Linked DNA regions of Homo sapiens. The protein of the gene in region 2 purifies or fractionates together with the protein of the main gene of each other region. This does not show direct contact. Each region holds a gene or a part of one and is shown on either strand. Other genes may lie near its edges.

What was found. Proteins that work in one complex are often made in the same cells at the same time.
Region 1: the proteins of NAALADL2 (region 2) and KCNJ8 purify together in Homo sapiens (affinity purification with mass spectrometry; 3 studies listed by BioGRID and IntAct, with this or other methods). This does not show direct contact.
Region 3: the proteins of NAALADL2 (region 2) and SCAP purify together in Homo sapiens (affinity purification with mass spectrometry, with the first as the bait; one large-scale study listed by BioGRID). This does not show direct contact.
Region 4: the proteins of NAALADL2 (region 2) and SCARB2 purify together in Homo sapiens (affinity purification with mass spectrometry, with the first as the bait; one large-scale study listed by BioGRID). This does not show direct contact.

What each region holds. Positions count from the first base shown.
Region 1 is NC_000012.12:21,764,696-21,768,257, reverse strand, and holds the end of KCNJ8 (ATP-sensitive inward rectifier potassium channel 8), read left to right. Parts: intron 1-1,634; coding exon 1,635-2,535; 3' UTR 2,536-3,303; downstream 3,304-3,562. UniProt on the Homo sapiens protein: Inward rectifier potassium channels are characterized by a greater tendency to allow potassium to flow into the cell rather than out of it.
Region 2 is NC_000003.12:175,236,782-175,240,343, forward strand, and holds part of NAALADL2 (inactive N-acetylated-alpha-linked acidic dipeptidase-like protein 2), read left to right. Parts: intron 1-3,562. UniProt on the Homo sapiens protein: May be catalytically inactive.
Region 3 is NC_000003.12:47,416,931-47,420,492, forward strand, and holds part of SCAP (sterol regulatory element-binding protein cleavage-activating protein), read right to left. Parts: intron 2,775-3,562; coding exon 2,398-2,774; intron 1,914-2,397; coding exon 1,725-1,913; intron 1,593-1,724; coding exon 1,391-1,592; intron 1,320-1,390; coding exon 1,204-1,319; intron 897-1,203; coding exon 374-896; intron 278-373; coding exon 192-277; intron 1-191. UniProt on the Homo sapiens protein: Escort protein required for cholesterol as well as lipid homeostasis.
Region 4 is NC_000004.12:76,158,226-76,161,875, forward strand, and holds the end of SCARB2 (lysosome membrane protein 2), read right to left. Parts: intron 3,527-3,650; coding exon 3,488-3,526; 3' UTR 512-3,487; downstream 1-511.

The DNA of each region.
Region 1 (3,562 bases), on a different chromosome or scaffold from region 2:
GCAGGAGGTGAGCAGTGGGGGAGCAAACATTACCTCCTGAGCTCTGCCTCCTGTCACATCAGTGGGGGCATTAGATTCTCATAGGAGTGTGAACCCTACGGTGAACTGCGAAGGTGAGGGATCTAGGCTGCGGGCTCCTTGTAAGAATCTAATTCCTGATGATCTGAGGTGGAACAGTTTCATCTCGAAACCATTTCCCCCCACACACACCCCCCAGTATTGTCTTCTACAAAACCAGTCCCTGTTGCCAAAAAGGCTGGGGACTGCTGCCCTAAACAATTACAATAATGACATCAAATATCACTAATCACACATCATGGTAACTGATGTAATAATAATGAAAAAGTTTGAAATTTTGTGAGAATTACCAAAATGTGACACACAGACACAAAGTGAGCACGTTTTGAAAAAATTGTGATAATAGACTGGCTGGATGAAGGTTGCCACAGACCTTCAATTTATAAAAATGCAGTATCTGCAAAATACATTACAGCAGAGAAGAATAAAATAAGGCATATCTGTATGTGACCTTGACACAGTCATTTACTAGTTTCTGCCCCTAGTTCTCCCTTTAATCATTTCAGTATTCTCCAGAACACCTAGAGTAGTGCTCCCCAACCTTTTTGGAGCCAGGGACTGGTTTTGCGGAACGCCAATTTTTCCACTGATGGGGGTGGGGGATGGGGATGGTGTGGGGATAAAACTGTCCCACCTCAGATCATGAGGCATTAGATTCTCATAAGGAGGGATAACCTATATCTCCCACATGTGCAATTCACAATAAGGTTCACTATACCATGAGAATCCAGTGCCTCCACTAACCTGACTGGAGGCAGAGCTCTGGCGGTAATGCTGGCTTACCCACTACTCACCTCCTGCTGTGTGGCCTAGTTCCTGACAAGCCATGGACCAGCACTGGTCCCTGGCCTGGAGGTGGGGGGGGGGGGGGTTGGGGACCCCTGACTTAACAAAATTAGATCATCAATAAGACACTTTTCTTTCCAAATGGAAAACAACTCCCTTCTATTAAAAATACTAGTTGTTTGGAATAATGTGTTTTATACTAGTTTTTTTAGCACTGTGCTATTTCTATATGAGACACAAAATAAGTATTAGCTAATGAATATGATTTTAAAGATTATAAATAATAAATTCACTCAGTACTCAGTACCTTCCATATGACTCAAGTCTCCTAAACATAGATACGCAATAAATAATAAACATCTACCTGGTAGAAAGTTTTACAAAGTAAACTGTGCCTTTGTGAAAGTGAAGTATTTCGCAAGGTAAAATATGCATATATATGAAAATATATTAATCTTTTACACAAATTAGGCCCATCACTATGTGACCTATGAAACATTAATAGAATGTTAATAGAATTAGGCCTTAGCTTAAGGGAACTTAATTAATAGAATGTTAATCTCCAGAAGTCTGGAGGTAGATGCATGCAAGAGAGAGAGAGACTGTTCTAAACACAGTTTAGAATTAGGCATTTTACAAGTTTAAGTTGGCTAGTCTTTCTGCAAGCATTTAATAGTCTTTGGTGGAAGAAAATGAAAAGCTCAGCTTGGCATATTTCATTATTCAAAATGTGACCTGATGGTGTTCTTTTCTGATATCATTCCTCACAGGTCTTTCACTTCTGCTTTTCTCTTCTCCATTGAAGTTCAAGTTACCATTGGGTTTGGAGGGAGGATGATGACAGAGGAATGCCCTTTGGCCATCACGGTTTTGATTCTCCAGAATATTGTGGGTTTGATCATCAATGCAGTCATGTTAGGCTGCATTTTCATGAAAACAGCTCAGGCTCACAGAAGGGCAGAAACTTTGATTTTCAGCCGCCATGCTGTGATTGCCGTCCGAAATGGCAAGCTGTGCTTCATGTTCCGAGTGGGTGACCTGAGGAAAAGCATGATCATTAGTGCCTCTGTGCGCATCCAGGTGGTCAAGAAAACAACTACACCTGAAGGGGAGGTGGTTCCTATTCACCAACTGGACATTCCTGTTGATAACCCAATCGAGAGCAATAACATTTTTCTGGTGGCCCCTTTGATCATCTGCCACGTGATTGACAAGCGCAGTCCCCTGTATGACATCTCAGCAACTGACCTGGCCAACCAAGACTTGGAGGTCATAGTTATTCTGGAAGGAGTGGTTGAAACTACTGGCATCACCACACAAGCACGAACCTCCTACATTGCTGAGGAGATCCAATGGGGCCACCGCTTTGTGTCCATTGTGACTGAGGAAGAAGGAGTGTATTCTGTGGATTACTCCAAATTTGGCAACACTGTTAAAGTAGCTGCTCCACGGTGCAGTGCCCGAGAGCTGGATGAGAAACCTTCCATCCTTATTCAGACCCTCCAAAAGAGTGAACTGTCTCATCAAAATTCTCTGAGGAAGCGCAACTCCATGAGAAGAAACAATTCCATGAGGAGGAACAATTCTATCCGAAGGAACAATTCTTCCCTCATGGTACCAAAGGTGCAATTTATGACTCCAGAAGGAAATCAAAACACATCGGAATCATGACAGCAAGATAACCCCAAGACAGTCTTTTATCAAGTTTTGACGGTTTATGCTGGGCACTGCCAGACTGAACCAGAGCTGGAACACAATAATGTGTCCTTCTACATTTTATTACACTAAATGATATTCATATTCAAGCAACAGCACTTTCTGTAGTAATAAAAAGTAACACACCAAGTGGAGGATTCATGGCTTATGCTTGTTTCATACATGTAGAATTCGCAGTGATATACTTAAGTTATGTGCAGGGGTGGGTATGCTCGTTTCTCTCAATTTGAAACACAAGAATTACACTAATAGTAACAGGCCTTGAGCACAAAATTTGGTCAAGAAATGAGTCTGTTTGAAATGCTTAGTTGGTGAAACCCAGATCGCTGTGTTACTAATGATCACTCTGGAAATGCAAATAGAATAGGAGGGGAAAAAACAAAATCATGTTAATGCGTTTTGTACATCAGCCTTCTCCTGTCTCCATGATAACTGCATTTGGTAGGAAGCCTGAGGCAAAAACTGCTTAAGTGGATCTGTTTGTAAGTGGATTCAGTTCATTCGCTTTGTCTGTCGGTGACTCCTGAAGGTTTCCTGGTCCATCTCATTGCGGCCTGTTGGGCAGAGCTGGACAAGGTGTCTTTGAAGGAAAGCTAAGTCTTGTCTCATTTAGGACTGGGTTCCCCACAGTGACAGTCACTTCCTTCAGCATCTCACTTCTTCTTCTAGAATCCCCACAGGGAAATACTGTATTGAATATTTTATTAAAACATTTTCTTTGTACTCACTGTAGTTTTGTGATTCCTCTTTCACAAAATCATCCCAAGTTAAAACTCAAGATGTTTTTAGAGCCATGTAAAAGAGATGTCAAAGTGATAACACTCACTCTGAGATTCCTCTCTCTCAAGTCTGTTTGCTCCAAAACTAGCTTTTTTTTGCTTTGTTTTGATTTTATTTCAGGTTTTAAAATGTCCTCTTGGTTTTTCAATCTAAGCCTGACATACCATAAAAATCCTATAAGCTTTTTTTTTTAATCTTCAAT
Region 2 (3,562 bases):
TATTGTACGTAATTGTATGTTTGCTTTTTATATTTTGTAAAAGTCTAGGCTGAATCACAAAAATGTTAATCATCCCTTTTATTCTAACAGATGATGCTGTAGGATGGATATATAAATATTCTTCGCCCTTTATTTTCTTTATTCTTTCACACTTCTGCAATTAGATAGCCTCACCTTCAAGTGTCCTGCGTTCAAGTAGTGTGTAAGAGTAATAAATGTTTGGCTATGTAGTGTCCATTGTTAGACTCCTTCACACAACTGAATGTCATCTCATTTTTAATGTAAAATAATTTTTTAGTTTAAAATATATGTAATATTACTAATATGTAGAGAGGTTTAATATTTTAAGAAATAAGTTAAAAATGTGAATTTGCAAAATTCTATAGCTTCAACCTTCTTACTTTTAAAAACTGAGCCTATTCCCTTTCTTCTAGATGTTTTTAGGCCACACCAAATTCCAAGCAGCCACTGATTGATTAGTTTATAGGGACCCTATAATTATGATTTGATTAAAATTAAAATATATTCAGGCCTAAAGTATTTTAATATCTTTTTCAAATTTAGCAGTCATTGTTTGTGGAGGCTAAGTTAGCCTCCATAAATTTTACTTGAGCACCATTTTTATTTCCTTGACAATTTCAAATCATCAGACCTTAGAAACTAGAAATGTGAATTCGCAGGATACCGATGGTGTTCTCCACCCCCAGCCTCTCTCCCATTTAGAATTATAAGTTATAAGGGAGTTGTATTCTCAGCATTTTGGTTATATGTTCGATATGTTCGGTAGCTGTCTTTTTAGATCCCTTTAAATGAAACAGTTGTTTTTCTTATCCAAATATATGTGGTTCTTTCCTCTTCTTTATTTTTTTTCTTTTTCACTTACTTTTTCTTGTCAATAGAGGACACAAAAGAAGAAGCCGGTTTACTTAAAAACACTATATTTTAACTTTCAAACTAATGCACGTGTGTATGTATCTATAACAATGGCCTTTTGTGTTGTTTTTCTGGGCATGTTGTATGACAATTTCTATTACAGCATATGGGACAATTGGGATAAGATAGGGTTCAGTAACACTTTCTTGTATGTCTCCATCTTTCACAGTTAAGGCAATGCACGCCTATGTCTAAGGATTTGACTTTGTATTGAAAGAGCCAATTTAAAAATGAAAAACTTAAGAGAACCAACCAGTGGTTTTATCTGTTTACTATCAAAGAGTACTCATTTATTTTTTAAAAAGTTAATTATTTTTTTCATTTTGCTAATGAAACTGGGTGGGGTGTTTTTTTTAAAATATTCCTGTGTAACCATATCTCTGAGAGTTTTCTACATGTTTATCTTAACAGTTTTAAGTTTTTAAATTTCCTTTTGTTTCACATAAAATAAAATCAACCTCTACTGCAGATTTCTGGAGTTATCCAAATATGCATAGTTCTAAGTCCTTATTTAGTATCCTGACACCATTTGTAAGTGTATTAAAACTGCCTTTTTTAAAATAAAGAAGAGTTTAAAAAAACTTTTAAAATGCAGCTGTTAAAAGGGAGAAAATAAAGTTAACTGTAGATGTAGAAATATACTCCATGTTTGAAATATTAGGGCTAAACAAAAGGGATTGTTAAAGGAAACAAAATGCAATACGGATAAACCTTACACCTTGTATTTGAAGAACATAATTTGAGAAATTAATTATGCAAATTAGATAAAGACACTATTTTAAGATTGTATTAATAATGCAAATCTATTATACTAAATACATATTGATTTAAATATCTATATCAAGAAAGCACATGCTATTGATACTCATTTCTTAAAACTCAGATTATATCAGTATTATAATTTTCAAAAGCAATTTCTAGGTGGCTATTATATATGCATATACAATACCTGCACATATTTTATATGCCTGTTTTAGATATATTATTGAAACTCACATGTTCTAATAGATAAGGCGCTGGTGATTTTTCTGTATCACTTTAAATCATTCCCTAATTCAAATCAAGCTTGAGTGGTTGCTGCTAAAGATTCAGGCATGCCTCTTTTTTTGATTTTGAGTACATTGTGTTTGCATGAATTTCTGTCTTGCAGAGCCATTAACAAGTTCTTAAATTATTCTAGTCTGACTGCCAGCAAAGCTTCCCACAACTTTTTGCTTTTGACAAGGTTATTTGCAGAAGAGGAGTGCCCCTTTTCTTGGAAGAGCTGTCATGTCCATTCATCATAGGACCGTTTTGTGTAAGCTTCCAATTTGTGCTTTCTGGTAACCGTCTAAACAGCATTTCTGATATCTGAGATCTACTTCAAAAACCTACTTAGTGCCAGCATGATGGATGGTGTACTTTACAACTTCTTTGTAATTCATCGTGCACTAGAAAGGTGACATAGTTTACCCCATCATAATGACAGGTGGGTCAGTAAAAGGGTCCTAAGGAGAGTTGTCCTGTCAGATGCAAAATACATATTAAAATGGATACATAAATAATTTAGCATGTGTAAGGTTAGCTTCAGGGAATAAACAGTGATTTGTATTTTTCTTAAAAGGTAAATATCAACTATAATATTATCATAAGGTTAAAGACATTGGTGGTGAGTGCTGAAAATGTCTAGTCAATTTTATTAATAGAACATATGGCTTTTATGCAATTTCTATGCAATTATTTCTTTTGTCCTTTGTGAAACACCAGCAGATGTAGAAAAGCAAATCACATATTAATATTTGCTATACATTGGTCAGATTGGTTCTGCCAAGTTGTTGCTGAGCAAGAGATTTTTTTCTTATTTCCATACATTTTATGGATTTTGTATCTTTTCATTCTGTAAAGCTTCATTTTTTTATCTGAAAGATAAGCCAAGTAATGCAGTTTTATGGAGAAACTTATTTTCAAAAACTCACTAACTGTGCAGAAGCTACATTATTATGAAGATATGTGTCACTACCCTATTCTGCAGAGAGCATAGTTCAACAGCCCAGACTAGCATCCTTTCTTAATAGGTGTGCAAATGTGGGGTGGTCAGGTCAATTCTGTACGACTCAGTGTTCTCATCCATATAAGGGGAATAGTAACAGTAACTTTAACGTTTTTTGTGGGGAAGAAATGATATAAACCATGTAAAGCACCTGACAGTTAGTACTCTATCAATGTTAGCTCTTATTGTCCTGTAAAAAGTCGACACATTTAAATGGGAGAAATTAAGAAACTACCAGAACATCAGAACAATATATCAAGATTTGAAAGAACAAACTTTTATTATATTTATCACATTATCTAAATATAATCTTTCTGTCTTCTCTTTAACAAGACAAATACGAATCATTAGGGAAGAAAATGCCTAGGCCAGTATGAATAAAAATAAAATATACATAATGCCCTGATCCTATGTTTAATTAAAAGTGAAAGCTCAAAAAAATTACAAATGAAATGTTTTATTCTTGAATGCAGAACGATTAATCATGTTGAGTTGGACCAGAAAAGCATTGCTTGTCTTTGTGTGTAAAATATCAATATGTAGTGCCTTAACGTATGAAATCTGAGCACTGTATCAAATATTTTCTCAGAAAGTCTCAAA
Region 3 (3,562 bases), about 130 Mb from region 2:
TAACGCTTTTAATTGTTACCTTCCCATCCAAGTGGACTGCCCTCTGCTCACAGGTGTGGAGCTGGGCACCAAGAAGGTCAATCGAATCATACAGTACAGCAGTTGAAGAGAACCAGAACTCAAGACTCAAGAGAGTATGGCCTAGCCAACAAAGGCTGGGGACATCTGGGGCTGAGGCAGGCCACGCTCACCTTTTGTCCAAGAACACCAGAGCGGTAATGCCTGAGGAGACCTCCTCGCTGCTGCAGCACAGCACCCCTTCAATGGCGTCCCACACCTACGAGTCCAGAGGCTGTGAGCACCTGCCAGCCAGAAAGGCCCACAATCCCCGGGGCGGACAGCCGCTCTGCCCACCTTTAGCCCCTCTGCCCACCTCCAGCCGGCCGCTGCTCCGCCCCACCACGATGAGGTTGCCCTGCAGCTCCAAGCTCCAGATGGAACCCTCGGCACTGGGGGCCCAGGCGAGGGAAGGGGAGCCTTTCTCGGGGGAGCCACCCTCGTCCTCAGGGGCCTGGGACAGCACCGGCCCAGGCGAGGGTGGGCGCAGGGCTGGTGTGCAGACGGCCGCCAGCCCCTCCTCCTGGTACACCCGCTGCACCAGGCAGCTGAAGTCATAGCCTGGGGAGTCCCGAGAGCGGCCACAGACCGCCCGGTGCCGGGGCTCGGGCTGAGTGGGCTGTGAGGACCGAGGCTGCGCTGAAAAGTTGGTGTCAATTAAGCAGGTGAGGTCAGGCTGGTCCCCGAAGAGGGAAGGCGGCGGAGGGCCCCGGGGGCGGTGTCTCAGGGGAGGGCTGTCCCCAGGCTCCTCTGGACCAGCCTTCCCACCATCTGAAAGTCGTTCCCAGCTCTCCTGAGCCTCAAGCCCGCTGCCCACGCCACTGTCCCGGCGCTGCCTGCTGGGGGCCAGGAGGGCGGAGTGAGAGGGGGCACGGGGGAGGGGGGTGAGAGGGGGCGGGGGACGGGGGTGAGAGGGGGCGTGGGAGTGAGAAGGGGCAAGGGAAAAGGGGGTGGGGGGAGAGGGTGGTGCGGGGTGGGGAGAGGGGGGTACGGGGTGGTGGGAGGGGGTGCGGGGGTGGGGGGAGAGGGGGCCTGGAGGGGTTGGGGGATACCTCGGAGGAAGAAAGGAGGGGAGATACGTGGCGGCGGGGGGTGGGGTGAGGGGGGTTGTGGGGGCACAAAGGAGGAAAGGGCAGCCGCACCTACCCTGGGCGCGGAATGCGCGTTAGGCAATCCCCGGTCTGCGCGTCCCACACGCAGACGTGGCCTGCCAGGCAGCAGCTCACCAGCAGCATGCCGTCGCTGGCCAGGCACTCGATGTCCTGCAGAAGCCCGGTGTTGGTATGGGCCAGGCTCCGGCCCTCCCCTACCCGGCCACTGTGCCCCTGCTCACCATGAGGTGGCCGCGCAGCACAAGCGGCACGATCTCCGTCTCGGGTGGCGCATAGCCGTAGTCGTCGCAGGGCAGCTCCCCGCGCCTCCGCCGCCCGGGCCCACCACCCAGCTGCCCGTAGTTGCGCGGGCATAGCACGCGGTAGAGGCAGAGCAGCAGCAGCACCAAGACGATGCCGGTGGCCAGGCCCAGCGCCGCCACCCTGCACGGGAGGGCGGACTGCTGTGAGACACACCTCACAGCCTGTCCCCTCCCCTCCTCCCTCTCCCCTACTCTTGCCTACCCGTCCCCCTCCCCGCACTCTTTCCCACCCCACCCCACCCAGCAGCCTTACTTGTACAGCGTGACGTCTCCATGGGCCTGCACCCCACCTGGGCCCTTGGGTCCTGCTTCCCAGTGCCCAGCAGGTATGGGCCCCGGTGGGGGCCAGGCACTGCGGCCGTCCTGAGGGTGCCGGCCCTCCAGAGCCTCCCTCGGGTTCAGGCGGAGCGTGACTGGGATGACGGGCAGCAGGCTGATGTACCTGGATTCGGACAGTGGGCAGCCTCAGCGGGGGGCCTCCCAGGGCTTCCTCCTGCTGTGCTCGCCAGCCAGTCCTCTCCCTCCTCCCCAGGCAGGCCTCAGCTCCACCGGCCAGACTCTCCCAGCATGGGGGGTTGGGGACAGAGGTAGGTCCCTCCCCAGCCCAGCTTAGCAGCCAACTTGCTGTCCCAGATACCAGCACCCAAACAGCCCTGGTGGCCGTGTGGGGTATCTCCCTCCCCACTCCTGGCACAGGTGGGTGGGTCTCATTCTGGTGAGGGCTGGCAGCCACCAGTGACTCCTCAGAGCAACCTGGGACTCCTCTCTTGGGTTATAGCTGCCTAAACCACCAGTTCCCACCTCACAACCTTATGAACTGTTTTAATTATTTGCATAATTCAAACCTGTGGGCCTCCTGCATTGGGGAAAGGGGATGGTGAGTTGACACCATCGAGTGAGGTGGCACCTGGCACGGCCCAGCTCACCTCTTGGCCAGTGTGATGTTGTAATAGCTGAAGAGCGTCGGCCAGTGGCGGAAGGACAATTTCCTCCAAAGTTCCTCATCCTCAGGCCCCCAGGTTACCTCTGGGACTGGGCTGTCATGGACAACCTCTGCTGGACCTCCACGCTCAGGTGACTCGCCTGGCGACGTCTGGTTCTCAGGTAGCTTAGGGGCATCAGGTGGGAAGATGGAGAAGGCAGGGTCCGGGTGGCTGGGGGGCAGCATGCCACTAGGCACGGGCATGGGAGCCAGGGCTCCCTCACCCAATGGGCTCTGTTCCGTCACCTGGGCAGCGAGGTAGTTGCGCAGCCCTGCTGGGTCTGTGTATACCAGGATGCCAATCCAGACAACGGTGCCAGCCTGCAGTGGGGCAGGGGGTACTCAGTGGGAGGAATGGGCCCCAACCCCCAGCAGCTTCAGCCCTCATGCTGAGAGGAAGCAGCACAGGGACCTCAGGCCTGGGGATGGAGAGAGGACACAGGCCCCACTGCGTCCTTTTCTCCTGCCTCTCCAAGTCCTCCTGCTAACACCTGCCAACACTTGCTGCTGGAGGGGCCTGCTTGCCTTTCCACAGTTAGGGGCTGAGTTTCTTGGCCTGGAAATACACTGAAGCACCCTGAGGTTTGACACAGAATGTCCCCACCCCTAAGCTCCACCTCAGCTGGAGCCAGAAAGCTGCTACCATTCCTACGGTCAGAGGGCCAGCAACCTGACCTGCTCCAGAGTCCCCCAGAGGTCCTAGTCCCAGGGGGCCTCAGCCTTCCTCCCATCTCAGTTCAGCTCCCTGGAAGAGGCACTGCTGCCCCAAGGCCAGCCCAGCCCGGCTGGTGAATGATTTTGCCCAGCACTTTCCAGTGTCTGCACACCATGCAGCGGCCGATGAACCCGACCCAGGGCAATGTGGTGGCCACAAGTGGGTCCATCCCAGAGCACTCAACTAACAGGCTCCTGTCCTGGGCCACTCTGGGGAGAGGATGGCTCCTGTACCTGAGAACCCTGGAGCTGCTTCTCCCACAGGCTTATCTCCTCAGAAGCCACTAGGGTCTGGGCAGGGAGGACACAACGGGCAACTCCCCAGAGCCAGGCTTCCAGGGGCCACCAGGGCCTGAGGAATACCCTTTGCCACTCTAAGGCCAAGTGCAGCACCA
Region 4 (3,650 bases), on a different chromosome or scaffold from region 2:
GGGTGGACTTATCTGCATTTTGGTTGGGTTTACCTGGAAGCAGACCTAAGATAAGGATGTTAGGACAGGTGGATGATTTGGGAAGCAGCATTGAAGGGCTGGGCGATTAAGACAGGGAATAAAGAAACACTGATAGAAAGTAGTTACCACTGTGGGCAACCCTAATTGAGGACCCATGTGGAATAAGCCTGAGAACTGGTCCTCTGAGGATTGAAACATCTATCAGCTGACTGACTCCTGCCCCATTTAGTTGAGGGTTGCCTTGGGTTATTAACTCCCTGATACTCCTATGGTGCTTTGAGGGCTCTTGAGAAAGACTTAAGACAGAAAAGCAGAATGTGGGACTGCTTGGAGTGAAACTTGTCAGGCTGATTGTAACTGTCCACTACAGCGAAGCTGAAATCAGACATGGCCCAAGTGTGTGACTCAGGGCTGCATCTGTCAAGGAACATCTTTCCAGGGAAACTCCATAAACAACAGGACATCCAATGACATATGACTTCTAGAGCAATTTTATATAAAGTGGTTTTTTATTAATGAAACATTTCATTGCATTAAGGGTAGAAATAAACATGTCAAGAACCGCATGAAGTGAACCAACTGTATAAGCTACATGAAGAGCATTCTGGTCAGTATTCTTGTTAACAGGCACAAGCAATTTAGTGATAATGTCCAGAGGGCCAAGGATGCGGACCACCTTTTGCAGAACTCATATCTCGAGCAGTTTAAATTAAAAATTAGCCTCCCTTAAGTTAAAAACCCCAATAGGGGTTAGTCGTGTAGTGCTTGTTCCACTTGACCATTAGTGATCTTTCTAGAACATGAGGAAATCAAGTCTGGTTAGAAAAGCCTGGAGCTAAAAGTGGCAAAGCCCATTTCCTGTCCTGTGCTCAACTCCTAATTTTCCCTGAGAGAAGTGAGTTAAGCTCTCTGTCTTGGTTTCTTCCTCTCTAAGTTGAGGATCATGGTACCAGAAGCTTGCATTCTGTGATCATGACAGTGCTTACAATCACAAAGCCTTTGGGGGTCTTTCTAAGATAACTGCCGCAAGAAAATGAGCATGAGAAATAATTCATCTTCAACTTAAAGCCAAATAGGTGCATTCATTCCTCTTAATCTATAATTTTGACTGTAGTTTGTAGATCTGTCTCAGACTTTTCAGAAGGATAGTATCAAATGTGATTTAAACCAAGTAACTATTAAGAATCATAAAACAGGCCAGGCCCGGTGGCTTACGCCTGTAATCCCAGCACTTTGGGAGGCTGAGGTGGGCAGATCGCAGGGTCAGGAGATTGAGACCATCCTGGCCAACATGGTGAAACCCCGTCTCCACTAAAAATACAAAATTTAGCTGGGCGTGGTGGCACGCACCTGTAGTCCCAGCTACTTGGGTGGCTGAGGCAGGAGAATTGCTTGAACCCGGGAGGCAGAGGTTGCAGTGAGCCGAGATCATGCCACTGTACTCCAGCCTGGCGACAGAGTGAGACTCTCTCAAAAAAAAAAGAATCATGACACAAGTATGGAAGTAATGTTTTTGGTCTCCCTGCCAGTGTGCAACTCAGTCTAAATGTGTATATCATTAACTGTTATCATTTACAGTATTTAAAATATCCTCCTCACAGATGATTATATCCTGATAATAGGACTAAACCAATAAGTATGCACTAGCATTGTCAATTTTATTAGTATGGATAAGTACATGCATAATTAAGACATGCCCAATTATCTAGTTAAATGTTGATAAATTCTAAAAATGTAGATATTTAGCATTATTGAAGACCAAATATTTTTGTTAGTTTTTTTACATTTTGGTGAGTTGGAGTATCTAAAGGTTCTATCTTGATTCTATAGAAAATTTGAGAGTTTAATGAATTGCCTCTTCAAGAGGGGAAATATATCACATATTGTTTTAGTGTAGAAAAAGGAAAAATTGTCAGTAAAACAATTTATTACCTCAATACAGGGATAAGAAGCTATGGAAATGAAATCTATATTTTTTTCTTCATTTGCTTACATTGAAATCCAGTTTTAAACAAAAAAAATCCTTTTGAATGGTTCAGTTGTTAAGAAATTCTATAAGCACTTTGTCAGCTAAATGTATAGGCTTCTCAATTCAAAATGAATGCTGAACTTTGAGAATCAAAGAAAATGCCCTTAAATATGCTTGAATTCTGAACACTGTGACATATGATGGCTCCCAATTCCCTGTCTTAGGTTATGCTGAAACCAAGAAGTCCTTTGAAAAGTGGTGTCTCTGCTTCTGGTCCTAACAGACCTTTCTTTAAAGTACTTTGTGCAATATTTTAAACATCCATCATTCTGTCAGCAAAATGATTGTCACAGGAAGTATAGGGCACACGTTTCTCTATTCAGTGAGTGACAGTGAGCTACAAAACACTGGAAAGAACTGAAACTGAGGAAGGAACTTGTAAAAAGAACTTCAAAATTACCAAGAAGGCGGCTGTCCCAGAAGAAATATCTCTTTAGTCTAATCAGACTTTCTGAAACTTATGTGTAACTTAGGCTGTAGATAGATGGATTTCCCATATTCATAATTTTACAAATAATCACTCAATATTAGATTAATTAATACAGTAACATATTTGGCAAGGGCGACTCAGGAAGAAAAATCAGTTACTCATTACATTCTCTCAGAAGCATCTTTTCGTAGCATGATCATTTTGACTAAAAAAAAAACAGTTAACTATCCACAAGCATCATAACTAGCAATTAATTCTACATGAAATATCTGTACTTTATCCTCACCAACATTATTTATGCATTCTCTTCGTTCACAAAAGTACAAGTTAAAAATCCTTAGGAGCTTATCACTATCAACTCATGGGTATTGCCCCACCCAACCCCTTTCCCATTTGATTCTACCCAGTATTTTATTGCAGTTGGAAGACTGAGTTTTCCTGGAAGAATTATGAACTGAAGATCAGCATAAAATGTAATATGTTTTAGAAATCAGATGCATTTGAATGATATATTGGATGAAGCTACCATTTTACCCTGGGTCCCGAACTCTTATTTACTTCTGTTTTGCAAGTGAAATGGAGGAATACAACATAAAATGGTATATACGCATTTTGAGCACAAAGTTCGGTGAATGAAGCATACTGAATGAAGTTAGACCAGTAGCATTAACAAGTGATGCAGAGACATTTTACCCACAATAGTGGTCACAAAATTCTGGAGCTACCAGCACCCAACAACAACAAAATTACTATACAAGGGTTTATTAAATACTTGCTAGACACATAAAAGAACAATTTCAGAGCCCACATGATTTTATAAAGCTTAATGGCCAGCCATGTCAGCCTGCTCTTTAACCTCTGGCCAGAATGTTCCTATCACTTGCCAGCGCCGTGTCTTTTTCCTTCTTTCAACAGGCAACAAGCCTGCAAGGAGGTGGAGGGTTTCCCCACGTCATCGTCCAGGTCAGGACAGCTCACACAGTTTCTTCACCAAGCAAAGGCAATGTTTAGGTTCGAATGAGGGGTGCTCTTTCATCCGCTGTTCCCTGAAACACAGAAGAGAGAAAACAAGTTAGATGTTCATGTCAGAAACTTCTCCCCAGTGTGAAAAGTTTGGGTGGGGAGTGGGGGCATGGAAGGAGGAGAGACCTATAGGAAGGTGGCTCATCT